Linked DNA regions of Homo sapiens: region 1 is linked to region 2. The links come from fine-mapping of genetic effects on gene expression. A gene starts in region 2. The other region holds a variant in brackets. All regions are shown on one strand. Distances are from middle to middle. Region 1 overlaps SMOX (spermine oxidase). Region 2 holds the start of LINC01433 (long intergenic non-protein coding RNA 1433).

The links. PIP is the estimated chance that this variant, and not a neighbour inherited with it, causes the effect.
Region 1: its variant is the best candidate, but not a certain one, in a credible set for the expression of LINC01433 in monocytes after Pam3CSK4 (Quach 2016, PIP 0.88).

The regions. Positions count from the first base shown.
Region 1 is chr20:4,157,431-4,165,756 of GRCh38, forward strand. The region is part of intron 1 of SMOX (spermine oxidase); the gene reads left to right. It overlaps LOC124904861 (a long non-coding RNA gene), which reads right to left. Exons shown (of 2, transcript XR_007067504.1): 2 at 1,133-5,768. Among named protein-coding and RNA genes, the nearest start is that of SMOX, 13 kb to the left of the region's middle. RefSeq lists enhancers at 207-707, 3,334-4,267. The variant T/A (reference allele first, on the strand shown) is at 4,190.
Region 2 is chr20:4,189,697-4,198,022 of GRCh38, forward strand. It overlaps LINC01433 (long intergenic non-protein coding RNA 1433), which reads left to right and starts at 3,394. Exons shown (of 3, transcript NR_033917.1): 1 at 3,394-3,550; 2 at 5,586-5,682; 3 at 5,830-6,257. RefSeq lists a silencer at 5,540-5,721.

The DNA of each region.
Region 1 (8,326 bases), 32 kb before region 2:
GTGGGTAGCTAGCAGGACTGGCTTCCTGGAGGAATGGCCAGTTAGGTGGGGAGATCTGGACAGAATGAGAAGTCACAGGTTTGAGTCTGAGAGTCAGAGGATCCTGGTGGGTGTGTGTAGGGGACAAGTGGCCTGCGGGCAGGGAGGAGGCATCAGGGACTACCTTCGTTCACTGGGCTGTGGCAGCCCACAGAAGGTTTTGAGCAGGGCAGTGATGTGATCAGAGCAGTGCATTAGTGAGACATGAGGCAGGGTGTGAGTGATGGTGGGCTGTGGGAGGGGGCGGTGCTGTGCCCCTTCATGGACATGAAGCTGGGGGAGGGGCCAAGTTGCGGACGTGACCCTCATTCTCAGACTCTCAGGGCAGTCAGTGAGGCTACCCTGCCTCGCCTCTGCCACACCTCCTTTCCTCTGTGGTGTGAGGCTCTTTGTTCAGCAGCTCAGGTGGGGGAGATGGGCTGTGGTATTTTTTATTTTTTATTTTTTTTGAGTTGGAGTCTCGCTCTGTCGCCCAGGCTGGAGTGCAGCGGCGCGATCTCGGCTCACTGCAACCTCCGCCTCCCGGGTTCACGCCATTCTCCTGCCTCAGCCTCCCGAGTAGCTGGGACTACAGGCGCCCGCCACCACGCCCGGCTAATTTTTTGTATTTTTAGTAGAGATGGTGTTTCACCTTGTTAGCCAGGATGGTCTCGATCTCCTGACCTCGTGATCCGCCCGCCTTGGCCTCCCAAAGTGCTGGGATGACAGGTGTGAGCCACAGCGCCGGTCGGGGTGTGGTATTTTAAATACCCAGGAGGAGCTACGGTGGTGCGTGGGGCAACATTGGCCCTCCGACCTGACCCGAAGGCCCTGGTGGGGCATGCTCAGTGGATTTTCCTACCCAGCCCTAGCTCCCCTCTCTTGTCCTCCTTTGCCCCTTTGTCTTTCTTCCTCAAGCATGTAGGAGCCCAGTGCTCTCTAAATCTGGGGCTGGGAGGTTGGAGGATGAGGAAAAGCATCTGGATTCAGGTGGAGCATGGTGGCCTAGCTGGGGGCATTGCAGCACCCCTTAGTCCAGATTCCCTTCTTCTCCACCTGCTTCTTGAGGGACGGCATTAAGGAAGGTGTGACTTAAAGTCAGAAGAACAAGAACTTGGAAGTGAGTTGCAATTTATTAGAAAACAGAACAAAGAATCTAGCCACCCCTGCCAACTCTGTGCTAGGCCCTGGCAGACACATGGGTCCTGTCTTCCCCATGCAGCCCCGGGGGCCTGAGTGAGGCATGATGGGTCTCACTCAGTTTCTGGGACATCTGTCTCGATGCCCTTTCGTCAACCCCATGGCTCTCTCAGAGCCTGTCCTCATACCTTCAACTGCTCCCCACCCATAACCAGATCTCCGGGACAGCCCAGCTCAGCCAGCGCACCTCTGATCCTGGCGGGTGGTGGTGATACTCCTTGCAGGCTGAGTTGGCTAGATTTTAGGATGACTCAAGCAGGAGACACCCAGCACCACCAAGGGGCATATATTCTTAGGAAATATTTTTAAATGATGCCTTTAAATGTTAAACACACAGGGACCTTTTACTCTCTCTTATTTTGGAAAATTAAAAAAAAAAAATCATACACAATGCAAAACCTTGAGAGTTAATCTGAAAAGGTTTGGAGTTTAAAAAGTAACTCAAGGAAAGATAATGAACTTGACTTCTTCATTAGATTTTTTTTTGTTTTTGAGACAGAGTTTCACTCTTGGAGTGCAATGGCGCGATCTTGGCTCACTGCAACCTCTGCCCCCTGGGTTCAAGCGATTCTCCTGCCTTAGCCTCCCAAGTAGCTAGGATTACAGGTGCCTGCCACCACGCCCGGCTAATTTTGGTATTTTTAGTGGAGACGGGGTTTCACTATGTTGGCCAGGCTGGTCTCAAACTCCTGACTTCAAGTGATCCGCCCACTTCGACCTCCCAAAGTGCTGAGATTACAGGTGTGAGCCACTGCGCCCAGCTGCTTCTTCATTAGATTTTAAAAAGAGCAAGGCCTGAGGCTTAATATATTACTAAGTAAAATTTAGAGGCAGGCTGATAGCAGGCTGTGGAACCTCTCTGAATCTCAGTTGCCTCCTCTGTACTATGGGGGTATTGATGTGAGGATTGAGGTATTCCACACAAAATGCTTGGCACTGCACTCTGTATCTCAGGTGTATTCAGCTAAAAATAGAGTGATAACAATGATGATAGGATTTTAAGAACAGACCTTTCTTGATGCTTCAAAAGCTAGTGAGTTATTCTCTCTTTGAACTCCACAAAAGGGCCTAAAGAATATGTTTATGTCCAAACTCAGCGTCTCCACTTCATAGGGGTCTTATGGATGAAATCATGGGCGCATGGCCCCTGTGTGCATTCTGAAATGAACCCCAGTGGCTTTTGAGACCTGGTTCCAGCCCTCGCGTGGGTGGGGGACTGTGCTTCATGGTTGAATTCTATGGAAAGTGCTTTATTGGTTAATCCTGTGGTCTTCTTAGGAGAGCACAGTTAATGTACCCTGAAGTCACCAGGAGGGGAAGGTCTCGGGCCAGTGATCGAGGACCGTCTAGAGGCAGTTATGAGTTACTTGCTTTTTGAATTTTCTTTTGTGCTGGCCAATGCAATTAGAACTTGTCCCTGGCCCTATTTATGGAGGAGGAGATCGAGGGTGAAGGACTGAGGCCTGGCTAGTTTAGTGCCTGGCAAGCCTAATCCAGCTGCATGGGGCAGGGAGACCAGGGTGACCTGCAGGGACCCCACTAAGCGCCCAGGCCAGAAAGCAGGTAGCTTCCCGGTGGCAGCCCCAGGCTTTGGCAGTGAAGCTGGAGTGAACCATCAGGCCTTGAGATGACTCCTGCCAGCCCCAAGTGCCTGGCACAGTGTGTGCATATCAGTATGTGGGGAGGAGTAAGATGGGAGAATCGTTGAGCCAGGGCAGTCCTCGGGCCTGCCGCACCCCTGGGGAGGCTGAGTAGGGGGGCCTGAGGTCGGAGCAGGGATTGAGCAGTGTTGCCCTGCCCTGCCCCTCACTCCATCCAGGTGGCGTCTGTCATGCCTCTGAACCTCTTGGGGCCTGTTTCCTCATCTGTAAAATGGGCAGCAGAGAGTTTATGAGTATTAAAGGATGCAGTGAATGGAAAGTGCCCAGCAAAGGGCCTGGCACAGGAGGGGCAAAATAGAGGTTTGCTGTGAGGTTCATCTGGTGACTCGATTTTTCTTTGGATATTTTCCTTTTTTCGTTTTGTGATCATGCATGCCACCTTGGCTCTATGATAAATTACGTTGTGTGGACACCATAAGAGAGGTATTTGTGCTGGAAAAGGGTTTACAGTGGAGGAAGGCCCGTCTCCACCTTCAGGGAGGAAGGCTGCCTGGATCCAGCACGGCTCAGACAGCTCTGACACTGGGGCTGTCGTGTCTCTTTGTGGGCAGAAAGCACAGGTCCCAGGCTGGGCAGAGTGGGACCCTGTGGCTCAGGAGGCAGGATGGGCTTGCCGGAGACCCCACCCCCTCCCCGGGGCTGGAGCTGAAGCACAGTTGGGCTTTGTGCAGAGTCACGAGGGGCCGCTGAGGGGGAACTGCGCCCGGCTGAGCTCACAGGCCTCAGTTCTTGTAAGTGGTTTTGAAAGAGTCAGCGGAAAGTGCTGACTGAGCTGTTCTCCTTCACCCCAGAATTGTGAGGCTGCGGCTCCTGGCAGGGATAGGGGAGAAGCCCCACCGGGAAGCCACCCCCTCAGCTGCCAGCTCACACCTCCCAGGTGTCAAGTGCCCAGGCTGCAGAATGGGTGGATCTCTGTGCTGGGTGGTGCTGGGGACACTGACTCACGTCAGGGCCGTGCCTGCAGGTGATGCCTCATGCAGGGGGCTGTGTTTGGGGGTGTGCCTGGCCCTGTGATGGCAGGCGGCTTGGAGAAGCTCTCCCAACCCTGCTGATAGCCCGGAGGAGAGAACTGGGCTTAATAATCAGACCCCTGGGCTGACCTCCCCTCTGCAGTCCTGCACTGAGGTATTTGGCTTCTGTCATTTTTCTGACCCCATCAGCTTGTTGTGAAGGGCAAAGATGATGACCAGTTGACACAGTTAGAACTGGTCTGGGTTTGTCCCAGCGGTGTCATGCCTGGTCACCCAGGTCATGCTGATGTGGCCCTTGCCCTCACCCCACATCCTGCCATTCAGCAAGTCCCCAGGAGG[T/A]TGACACAGCACTGCACCTCCTCTGCCGCAGAGTTGCCTTGGCAGGAGGCCTTCCCTGACGCCCCTGTGCAAGCAGTTAGTTTCCTGTCTCCCCGCCCTGCTTTTCCCTGACCTGACAGATCCTTAAGGGGAGGCGTCTGGGTGTTGCAGTATCCCCAGTGCCTCGGACAGTGCCTGGCACAGGTAGCCCTCCAGAAACCTTTTTGAATGAACGAAAAATCTGTCCCCTGCTACTCCCGTCCCTGCCTTAGGGCTCACTCACAAACCCTGTCTGTGCTTTTCTCCAGTCTCCTTAGCACTGGTCCCACCCTAGGCCGGGAACGTGCCCCCCGCCTGCCCGGTGCCCATCCAGACTCCCACTCACGGCGGCAGCCACCGGGTGGCAGGGCCTGTGTGTCTCCAGCGCCTGTGCCTGCCCCGCCCCCTTCCTGGTGCCTTGGGCGGCAGGTCGTGTGCCTCCTGGCAGGTGTGCCTCCTGCCCTTCCCCAGGGTGCCTCGGGGAGCCAACCTGCATGGCTGACTTGCCCAGGAAGCGCAGGGCGGCCCGGGTGGGGCTGGGGCAGGCCCTGAGCGGAGGCGGGAGGTGTGTTCTCCCCACCTGACGCTGGAAGGCTTCCCCACTCCCCACTCCCGACTCCCAACTCCCAGGGCGGGGTGAGGCGGCTGCCACAGTCATGGGAGGAAGCTCAGGAGAGTGCATAGTGTGGGACCAGGGGATTCCAAGCCAGTCCAGGTGAGTTCCCGGAGAGAGAGAAAAGGGACAGTGTTGGAATCACACGTTGAGAGATGATACTGTTAGCAGTGCCTCTGAGCCTCTGCACGTGCAGTTTCCCTGCGTGGAGCTCACTTCTCTCTCCTGGGAATTTCCACCCCCTCTTCCACCCTCCATTAGGTCTTCCTTCCCATTGTCTCTTGAATTCTTCATGATCCTTATTTCTGTACCTTTGAGTTCACTGGCTGTGAGCCTCAGGGCAGGGGGCCCTGTCTCTTGAATCCATTGCTGCGGAATCTCCAGGGGCTGATGCAGGGCCAGGCAAGGGTGCATCTTGGGGGAGACAAAACATACAAATATAGGTCTCTCTAAGGACTTCTGATGAGGAGGCTTGGACCCAGCAGAGAGCAGAACAGATGTGATGGTCATTCCCATTTTGCGGATGAGGAAACGGTCTTTCCAAGATCACTCAGAGCTAGACCCCATTCCTGCTTCCTGGCTCCTGTCCTCCAAGGGAGCAGTCCCAGCGCAGAGGTTGGACCTGCAGAGGGTGTTGAGATGCAGAGAGAAAGACGGGGAGGATGCGGCTGTGTGTGTCGGTGTGTGAGCAAGGTTGGGCAAGGACATCTGTGTGGCCTGAGGTGCTTTGTATGCCTGGAGAGCAGAGGGCTTTGGGAGCTGGGCAGCAGCGGGGTGGAGGGAGACCCAAGCCTAAGCCCAGGGTGGAGGGAGCTTGGGCACTGCCTGGCCTTGTGGCTGTCTCTGCCTCTTCCTCTCCGGCACTGTCAGACCTCAGTGGCTGTGGGCTGGCCAGGAGGCTGCAACTGGAACCTGAGCCTTGGCTGTACATTGGCATCATGTAGGTCCCTAAAAAAAAAAAAAAATACATGGTTGGGCCCCACCCCAGAGAGTCTAATTTAGATGACCTGGTATAGGTAGGGGTTATTTGTAAAAATCTCCAGGTGAGTCTAATGTACTGGTTGGGAGAAGTTCCTGTCTCTTGGGCCTTATAAGCTGTAGGGCCTGGGCCAGGCTCCCTGCCCACTTCATCCTAGCTCTGCATTTCAGAACAGCGGGGTCTGAGGCCCTGAGAGGGGTTGGTTGGGGGAGTGTTTACCTGGGGACTTCCACTCTGGGGAGTCTCTGGGGAGAGAGAGATGCTGACTCTTAGTTACCTATTGTTGGCTAACCAATGACTCCAAAACTGGTAGCTTAAAATGGCAGTCAGCATTTATTATGCTCACAGTTTCTGTAGGTTGGGAATTTGGTAGCAGTTTAGTTGGGTGGTTCTGGCTCGGGGTCTCTAGTGAGGTTGCAGTCACAGTGTCAGCCAGCGCTGCAGTCATCTGAAGGGAGCAGGAGGATTTGCTTCCAAGATGGTGTGCTCACATGCTTGGCAGGATGGTTTGGCTGTTGATGGGAGGGCTCAGTTCCGTGCCCTGTGGGCTGCCCCAGGGTTGCTTGAGTGTCCTCCCCACATGGTGACTGGCTTCTCCCAGAGTAAGCTGCCCAAGGGAGCAAGGTGGAAGCCACAGTGTCTTTTATGTCTACTTTCAGAAGTAACATTCCATCATTTCTGCAATATCCTGTTAGCTGCAATGGTCAGCTTGGGAGAGAACTACACCAAGGCACGAATCCCAGGAGGTAGGGATCATTGAGGGGCATCTTAGAGGCTGGTGGCCACATAAATTGTCCTGTTGTTGCACCTGCAGCTTCACAACCCTAGCCTGGGAGCTCCAAGCACCCCTACCAAGTAGGATAGTGGGGTGACCCTTCTATCCTGATCCCCTGTTCTTCCCATTGTCATTCCATAACAGTGTCTCTGTGGGGTAGGGTGGCTCTCTCTGAGGCCTGGGGCCCTGCTCTGGAATCATTCTGCAGGGGGATCTGTGATCTGTCTACTGGCTGGGCTTCCTTCATCCCCACCCCTGCCTGTCACCCGGCCCGATCTTCCCTGCAGTGACTACCACTAGTGTGCAGACTGGGGCCTGTAGGAAAACATAAGGACTATTGCTGCTACACATCTGGCTCTGGGATAAGCCATCTGCATGCGTTGTCACACACCTCTGTGGGGCAGGCACACTTTATCCCCATTTTACTGATGAGGAAACTGAGGCTTAGATCACTCATCTAATAAGTGGTGGGGATTCAAATGACTGGTATTCAAAGCCAGCGTCAGACCCCAGGACCTGTGTGAAAGCTGTGGTACTATAAGGTGTTCCCAAAGGATAGGACTATTTATTAAGTTGGGTCGTCAAATGAAACATAAGGAAATATGCTTTCATGATTTGTGTGTGTGTGTGTGTAAGAGAAGTGTCTCTTCCTGGGGTTCGCCGAAGGCTGTGGTGACTTGGGTGCCTCAAAACAGGGCTGATACCTTGGTGTTGAAGCTAGTATTCCCTCTCTGGGTTTCGGCTGTGTCAGGAGACTTTTTTTCTAAGGAAGCGGGCAGCTGTGAGCACCATCGCCTGTTGGCCCTCCCCTGCCAGTGGCCTGGTCTGCTGTTACCAAGGGCAGTCTTGCACCAACGTATTCACCAGGGCAGTGACCGGCTCTGTGGTGTTTTTTTCTTTAGAGACAAGGTCGCCCATAGTGGAGTACAGTGGCATGATCATGGCTCATTGCAGCCTTACACACCTGGGCTCAGGTGATCCTCCCACCTTAGCCTTTGGAGTAGCTGGGACTCCAGTTGTGCATCACCATGCCTTAGCTAAGTTGTTTTTTTTTTTTTTTTTTTTTTTGAGACAGAGTCTCGCTCTGTTGTCCAGGCTAGAGTGCAGTGGGGTGATCTTGGCTCACTGCAACCTCCGCCTCCGAGGTTCAAGTGATTCTCCTGCCTCAGCCTCCTAAGTAGCTGGGATTAACAGGCACGTGCCACCACACCTGGCTAATTTTTGTATTTTTAGTAGAGACGGGTTTTCACCATGTTGGCCAGGCTGGTCTCGAACTCCTGACCTCATGATCCGCCCGCCTTGGCCTCCCAAAGTGCTGGGATTACAGGCCTGAGCCACCGCACCCGGCCCTAGCTAACTTTTACATTTTTATTTTTGGAGAGATAGGGTCTTGCTATGTTGCCCAGGCTGGTCTCAACCTCCTGACCTCAAGCAATCCTCCCACGTCAGCTTCCTAAAGCACTGGAATTACAGGCATGAGCCACTGTTCTGGGCCTGGTCTTTCTTACACCTTTGTGGTTGATGACTTCCTGGAGGGGAATTCAGAGTTGGGATGTTAGGTCCTGCTCACAGGGAGGGAATCCAGACCATGGGGTCTTATCCTAAGGGCCACTAAAGGGAGCTGCAGTAGACTTTGCTGGGGATACAGGAGGCTGGTGAATAGGTTCAGGAGTCAGGGCTGGCCTCTCTCAGGGTAGGGGTGATTTTCCCCATTTGACAAATGGGGAAAATGAGGTTCAAGTGCTAACAGAC
Region 2 (8,326 bases):
TTGTAGAGAGAGTGTCTCATTATATTGCCCAGGCTGGTAGGTTGTGATGGAGATGTCTAACACACAGACACACGTACACACATGCTTACCTGCATCCACTTACGCACACACACCTACATGCACAAACCTCACAGACATTTTGCTTTGCCAGGGTTGATCTGCCAGAAATCTTCATGGAGCTTATATCAAGGGATTCATACCCACCTGCTGGCATAACTGAAAAATGTCTAAATATATATATGAATTTTTTTTTTTTTTGAGACGGAGTTTCACTCAGTTGCTTAGGCTGGAGTGCAGTGGCATGATCCCGGCTCACTGCAACCTCCACCTCCCAGGCTCAAGCGATTCTCCTGCCTCAGCTTCCCGAGTAGCTGGGATTAAGGCACGAACCACCATGCCCAGCTAATTTTTCTATTTTAAATAGAGTTGGGGTTTTGCTATATTGGCCAGACTGGTCTCAAACTCCTGACCTCAGGTGATCCACCCGCCTCGGACTCCCAAGGTGTTGGGATTACAGGCGTAGCCACTATGCCCAGCCTATATATGAAAAATTGTCTGAATAGATGATCTGTTCATGTAGTTTAAGCCCAAAAGCTGTCCACGTGGATACAATACACTGAAATGTTCCCTCTCACAGTGTCCCCAGTCACTGTTGCCTCTCCCACAGCCCTAGGGGTATCCATTCCTAGATGTAAGTCAATATAAAAACACTCTTCTCCCTCCTTTTTATACAAAAGCACCAAAGTATTCATCTTGTCCTGATTTTGCTTGTTTTAGTTAACAATATGTCCTGTAGGCTGGGCGCGGTGGCTCACACCTGTAGTCCCAGCACCTTGAGAGGCCAAGGCGGGTGGATCACCTGAGGTCAGGAGTTCAAGACAAGCCTGGCCAACATGGTGAAACCCTGTCTCTACTAAAAGTACAAAAAATAAGCCGGGTGTGGTGATGCATACCTGTAATCCCAGCTACTCGGGAGGCTGAGGCAGGAGAATTGCTTGAACCCAGGAGGTGGAGGTTGCAGCGAGCCGAGATCGCGCCATTGAACTCCAGCCTGGGCAACAAGAGTGAAACTCTGTCTCAAAAACAAACAGAAAAACAAATAAAAAATCAAAAAAACCCACAATATGTCTTGGACATCTTTCTGTAATGGTACATAAGCAGACAATGTAAATTTGGACCTTACTTTGGTCAAAGCATGTCTGTCTCCTCCCTGGCCCAGGGTCACTTTATGGAAGCCACCTTCTATTACCTGTTACCTTCCATGACTCATAGTCTGCTGTCTGCTTCTGACTCCTCAGTTGTTGGATTTCCCCATCCACTGCAGTGGGATGGAGACAAGCAGCCCCATCACATAAGTATCGGGGAAGAAAGTGATAAATAGGTTCTCAGTGTATAGGCAGAGGAATTTTAAAGGACTCCATGGTGGGGTGAAAGGTCTGGAAATGTTTACTTGGTGACTGCACTTCAGGGAGCTTCATGGGTGGGTAAGAGGGAGGGAGAGAATATTCACTTAGTGCCAATTGCCTGGCACTATGCCATGTGAATGTGATACTGATTTGACAGTGATGCCAACTCAGGCTTTATTTATTCCTGTGGGCAAGTGAAACCTCAGAGAAGTTAAGTAACTTGCCCAGGGTTGCTCAGAGGTGCCGAGACATGAGCTGAAGTCTGTCTGACTGCGTGGTGTAGGCTCGTTCTATTGTATGATGAAAAGAAGAGGCTGGTGCCACCAAAAAAGCTTAAGGCCATTGCTGGAGAGAGTGGGTGTGGTACGACCACACTGGGGGACTGTGGCGGAGTCAGCTAAAACTGGCCATGTGCTTGCCAGCGTTCCCACCCCTGGGTATACACCCAAGAGAAAGGCGTGCAGGTGCTCACCAAACATATATACCAATGTGTCCACAGTAACATGGACCCTAACAGCTAAAAAACTGGAAGCTGCCCAGATGTCCATCAACAGTAGAATGAATTCCAGTGCACTCACACAATGGAATACTATATAGCAATAAATAAAAGGAATGGATATTTGCAACAACATGGATTAACCTCAAAAATGTTATGTTGGCAGGGTATGATGGCTCATGTACCCCCAGCACTTTGAGAGGCCAAGGCAGGTGGATTGCTTGAGCTCAGGAGTTCAAGACCAGCCTGGGCAACAAGGCGAAACCCCGTCTCCACAAAAAATACAGAAATTAGCTGGGCATGGTGGTGCGTGCCTATAGTCTCAGCTACTGGGGAGGCTGAGGTGGGAGAAATGCTTGAACCCAGAAGGTTGAGTCCGCAGTGAGCTGTGATCATGCCACTGCACTCCAGCCTGAGCAACAGAGCAAGATTCCATCTCAAAACAGCAACAGCAACAACAACAACACAACAAAAACCCTCAAAACATTATGTTGAGTTAAAGAAGCCGGACAAAAGGCTATGTACTATATGATTTCTTTTATGTAACGTTCAAGAACTTGCAAAACTAATCTACTGTGTTGGAAATGAGGGGCTGGGGGTGGCGGCTGGGCAGGAGTGGGATGGGGGCACTTCCTGGGGTAACGGAAGTGTTCCACATCTTGATCTGGGTGGCGGTTGCATGGGCATACACGTTGGTAAAAATGCATCAAGTTATACATGGAAGAAAGTTTCAAGAGTCTGAGAATGCCTCCCTCCATTCTCCCATTCCAAAACATGGTCATATTGGCCCAGCTAATTTCCTCCTTGCAGCAGAGATGACACATCTGAGAGCAGATAAAGGGAGGAGGGGCCCTCTTAGGCCCCACTGGCTGCCTGGTGATAAGCAGTGACCTCAAATTAATATAGGATGTCACTGTTTACCAGCTCCATTGCCTGTATCCCCTTATCCTCTCTGCATCTGCAACCACGAAAGAGGGGTTGGGATTGTTCCACAGCAGAGGAAATGGAGGTTCTCGGAAGGACCTCGGGGAGGCCATGCAAGGCTACTCGGCTTGGAGAGGACATGACCTCGTGGGGAAGGGAGCAACCCGGGGAGGAAGCCGAGGGGGAGCCTTTGGACACACAGGCAGGGACAGGCGCCAGAGGGGGCACCTCCTGCAGTGTGCTGCCTCCACATCAATAATTGCATAATGTGGATACCATTTATGATTGACAGTTCCAAAAACCAAACTCACTCACTACAGATGAGCAAGGAAGAGCAAGAGCCATTCAGAAGTGAGGAGGTATGACGTACAAGGAACACAGGATATGTTTCATGCTGTGATGAAGTTTCACAATAGACTTGGCATAGATTGAAACCCAAAGGGCTCTATCAGAAGTGGCAAATGTGGCACGCTCAGGCCAACACCCATGCCAATGATTCCTATAAAATTCCCATTGCCTGGTAGAAGTTCACAGGAGAGGAAAGTTCTTTCCTGCACCAGGTTCTATGGAGAATTGGTTGCATGGTTTCTCGTGCTGTGGGCATCAGGGACTTCAGGTGAAGGTATTTAGCTGTGGCTTTGTGCAAACCTCAGAACTGTGTCCTCCAAGGGCCTGGGGTATTTGGCAGGCGCTGTCTCTTGCTGCCTTTGCTGCTGTATGACAGGTGAGTAATATGTTATATCCTATTTCTTGGGAGCTGCCTGGAGTGTCTGCCCCTCCTGCAAACAAATGTAGGAGTGAAGCACCTCTAGTTTGAGTCACCTTAACTTACTAGGTCCTGTTGGGGGTGAGCTCAAGGGTAACTCCAAGGTGCAGAGTGAGTTAGGCTGCTGGTTCAGTTCTTGAGAATTGCCTGTCTAATTAGTGGTCTGCCAAACTTAATGGTAGAGTTACAGAAGGCTGTATTCTTTATAATGACTGGCTGGGCTGTTTGTTGAGACTCCTTATTTGTGTAGGACAATCAAGCCATCAACACGCAGGCAGAGTTGTTGCTCTACTAAGGTGGCAGCCAGGACATCTAATCTTGTGTTATGTATTTAATATTAAAAAAGGGGGTCGTTCACTGCCCTGTTTCATACTGTTCAGCTTGAGACTGGTAGGTACAAAAGTCTTCTCACTTCCCATGATTCTAGCGGTGATTGTTTAACACCGATTTTGCCAGAACGTTCAAAGCCTGGATCTCTCTCAGAGAATGCAAAGTGTTAGGCACATTTTATTTCTGCAAACTCTGTGTTTGTGCAATTTCAATGCGTTGGATTGGGTATTCCCTCTCCATTTCACTGTAGTCCCAGCTACTCCCTTTTGTCTTAGATCTGCTACCATCCCACTCCCATACATGGGGCACATGGGGTTACACAGCTGTCTTTCATCCCCAGTTCAAGGTCATGTGGCCACTTTATTATGCCTTGAAGCTCTTTCTTCTCTTCTATGAGCTACTTGGGTGTGCTTTCTGTTACTTGAGCCATTGGTTCCTCCTCTTTTGCTCAAATTAGTTTGGGTTAGGCTTCTGTCACTTCTGATCAGTTCAAACTAATTAAAATTGGTTCCAGGACTGGAGTTTTACATTTGGTCTGTCATTTCACTGGGTCTCTTTCTAATACCCTCAACTCTCTTACCCCCTGTTTTGTTAAAGCCAATTGACACAATTCCAATCAGCATTCAGTCTACAGCTACGGCTGGGCCACCATCAGTTGCTGCTGGAAAAAAACAGAGCCACACCTGCTGGCCGAAGCAAAGCAAATAACAACACTGCCTGCAGAATCTTTCCAGGGACTTAACATATTTAAAGCAGAAATTCTGCTTCTTCCTAAATCTAATCTACCCTTGGTCTTCCACATTTGAGTAAGTGGTACCACCATTTGGCCCAGGGCAAACACCTGGGCCATCATCAACTCCTTTTTCTTTCATATTCCACATCTGATCATCAGATTTGCAATCAGCAAATCTTGTTGGCTCTCCCTACAAAACACATCCTGAGTCTGATGACTTTGAGCCTCCTTCACCGCTCCTCACATCTCTGCTGTGTATGGCTGCAACAGCCTCCTAAGTGGGGTTCCTTTTTCCACGACTGTCCCTTTTAGCCTGTCCTCTACACAGCAGCAGCATGATCCTTTCAAAATATAAATCCAGCCACGCCACTTCCCTGGTTCTTAGTAACAACCATCATGCTAACGATCAAAGGTGATTTCCAACATCCTATGTGATCTGTCTCCCTGGGTCGCACCTCCTCTCCACCCTCTCCTTCCCTTTACCCTGGCTGTCCTCCTTAACTGAAATGCCCCCGTACCCCAGATATTTGCAAGGCTCTTTGCTGCTGCCTTCAGATCTCTACTCAGATGTCACTTCTTTGGGAAGACTTCCTGAGCAAAAGACTTCCTTGAGCACCTTGTTTCCACAGCCTCCCGCACTCTCTGCTCTCTCATCCTGCCTGTTTCTTCATAGTCCTTCTCTTTCCCCGATGTTTTTGGTTTTGATGTTTATGTGTTTATTTATTTTCCCTCAACCCCGAATGTAAGTTCTATGTTCACTTCTGCACGTCCAATGAGTCCAAAATAGTGCCTAGCATAATAGGTTATCAATAAATATTTGCAGAATGAATAAGCAAGGGATTGAAGAAGCCAAGATAAATGGTGGAAATCCGGAGGACACCCCTCTCCACCATCATTTGTCAATAGGCAATTTGGTCTCTTGCTTCATAGACAAAATAGAAGCCACCTGGAGGCAACTTCCTCACCCATCGACAAGCTCACCAGCCTTCATGCCTGTCCTTTGGAGCTTCCCTGCAGACAGTGGCAGGTAAGGCTTCTGCCTCTCCTAGGCTGACCCTCCACCTGTGCTTCCCATGCCTCAAGTGCAGGGACGTCGCCTCGTCCTTTCCGTCCCCTATCATTCTACTTCATCCTTTCTACCCACATTTCACTATGCTCATGTCTTTCCCATCAGCCACCTTCCTCGGGAACCACCTTCCTGGGCCTCTCCTTCAGTCAAGCTGCACAGCAGCATTTTCTACACTTGCTCTGGCGGCATCCTCACTGTCATGCACTAGCGGTTGTTGGTGAGGTTCTTCAGGCTGCAGATGGAGACATGGGAAGGGCTGGACTGGCTCCCCTTCTCACTGTGGCTGGGCAGGGTAGGGGGTACCCCGGCTTCCAGGATCTCTGGAAGCAAGGACAACCTCAAGGGCTGATCCACATCCTCTGGTGCCATCTGCCGCCCAGATGGGGACACAGCCCTCTTGCTGCACCGAGAAAATGTGTGTCCTGGATTCTCCGTGAGCTTTTCTGAATTAAAACAAACAACATAAAATCATGGGAGTGCCTTTAATTACTGTTGAATAAGTGAATAAAATAAGATTATAATATTCTACAGTATCATTTATTTTTCATTCTTAACATTATAAAGAGGGCTTGTTGGCTGGGCGCGGTGGCTCACGCCTGTAATCCCAGCCCTTTGGGAGGCTGAGGCGGGCAGATCACCTGAGGAGTTCGAGGCCAGCCTAACCAAGATGGGGAAACCCTCGTCTCTACTAAAAATACAAAATTAGCCGGGCATGGTGGCGCATGCCTGTAATCCCAGCTACTCGGGAGGCAGAGGCAGGAGAATCACTCGAACCCGGGAGGTGGAGGTTGCAGTGAGCCGAGATTGTGCCATTGCACTCCAGCCTGGGCAAAAAGAGCGAAACTCTGCCTCAAAAAAAAAAAAAAAAAAAAAAAAAAAAAAAAAAAAAAAAAGAGGGCTGGTGGCCCCCGAGATGAGATATTTACTTTTGTTCAATTGTTCATTCTTTTGTTCATCTATCAGACTTTTAATGATTTCCTTTTGTATGCCAGGCTACGTGCTTAAAAAAAGAAAAGCTTCACTATGCTTTAAGACACAAGTTCAGTAAATAAATAAGAAATGTGTGCTTAGTTTGTTCCCTAAGGAAAGCTGGACTTACGGGTTGTATTTGTAATAGTTGTGTGTGTGGATTAAGTAATGTGGGTGTGAGGAATAAGTCACAGGTGTGGATATATCTTATGTGTCCTGTTAAATCTGGCTTCCTAATGGGAACAAAATAAGGTCTTATTTAAAAAATTAGTAAACATATTTATTGGAAGTATAATTGTGTACAATAATACACTGATCACGAGGCTGGGTGTGGTGGTTCATGCCTGTAATCCCAGCACTTTGGGAGGTGGAGGCGAGTGGATCACCTGAGGTCAGGAGTTTGAGAACAGACTGACCCATGGTAAAACCCCATCTCTACTAAATAGAAAAATAATTAGCCAGGCACGGTGGCGCATGCCTGTAATCCCAGCTACTTGGGAGGCTGAGGCAGGAGAATGGATTGAATCCGAGAGGCAGAGGTTGCGGTGAGCCGAGGTTGTGCCATTCCGTGTCAAAAATAAATAATAAATAAATAAAAATACATGGATCACGAGTGTACAGCTTTATAAATTTTGAACCTACCTATGTAACTGGCACCCAGATCAGGAAACAGAAGTATCCCTTTGTTCCTCCTGCCACAGGCCCTCTCCTCCCAAGGGCTACCATTATGTTGACTTCTAATGCTTTAGTTTAACTTGTGCCCATTTTTGTACTTCATGTAAACATGACCCATTTGGTTTCTTTATCTTACCTGGTTTCTTTATTTGGTTTCTTTAGCTTGTGTCTGTGAGGTCCATCCATGTTGTTTCATGTAGCAAGCATTTGTTCACGCTTACTGCTTGATCATATTCCATTGTGTGATATGCCATGATTTGTGTATCGTTTCTCCTGGTGATGGACACTGGAATTGTTTCAAGTTTTTGGCTATTAAAAGCAGTGTAGCTAGCTGAGTGCGGTGGCTCATGCCTGTAATCCCAGCACTTTGGGAGGCTGAGGTGGGCCGATCACGAGGTCAGGAGTTCAAGACCAGCCTGGCCAATATGGTGAAACCCTGTCTCTACTAAAAATACAGAAATTAGCTGGGTGTGGTGGCATGTGCTTGTAGTCCCAGCTACTCAGGAGGCTGAGGCAGAGTAATTGCTTGAACCCTGGAGGCGGAGATCGCAGTAAGCAGAGATCACGCCACTGCACTCCAGTCTGCGCGACAGAGGGAGACTCTGTCTAAAAAAACAAAAAACAAAACAAAACAAAAAACAGTGCAGCTACCAACATTCTAGTATTAGTCTTCTGGTGAATATACGTATATGTGTATATATATGTGCATTTCTTTTTTTTTTTTTCTTTTCTTTTTTGAGATGGAGTCTTGCTCTGTCGCCCAGGCTGGACTGCAGTGGTGCAATCTTGGCTCACTGCAACCTCTGCCTCCCGGGTTCAAGCAATTCTCCTGCCACAGCCTCCCGAGCAGCTGGGATAATGGGTGCCCACCACCATGCCCAGCTAATTTTTGTATTTTTAGTAGAGACTGGGTTTCACCATGATGGCCAGGCTAGTCTCGAACTCCTGACCTCAAGTG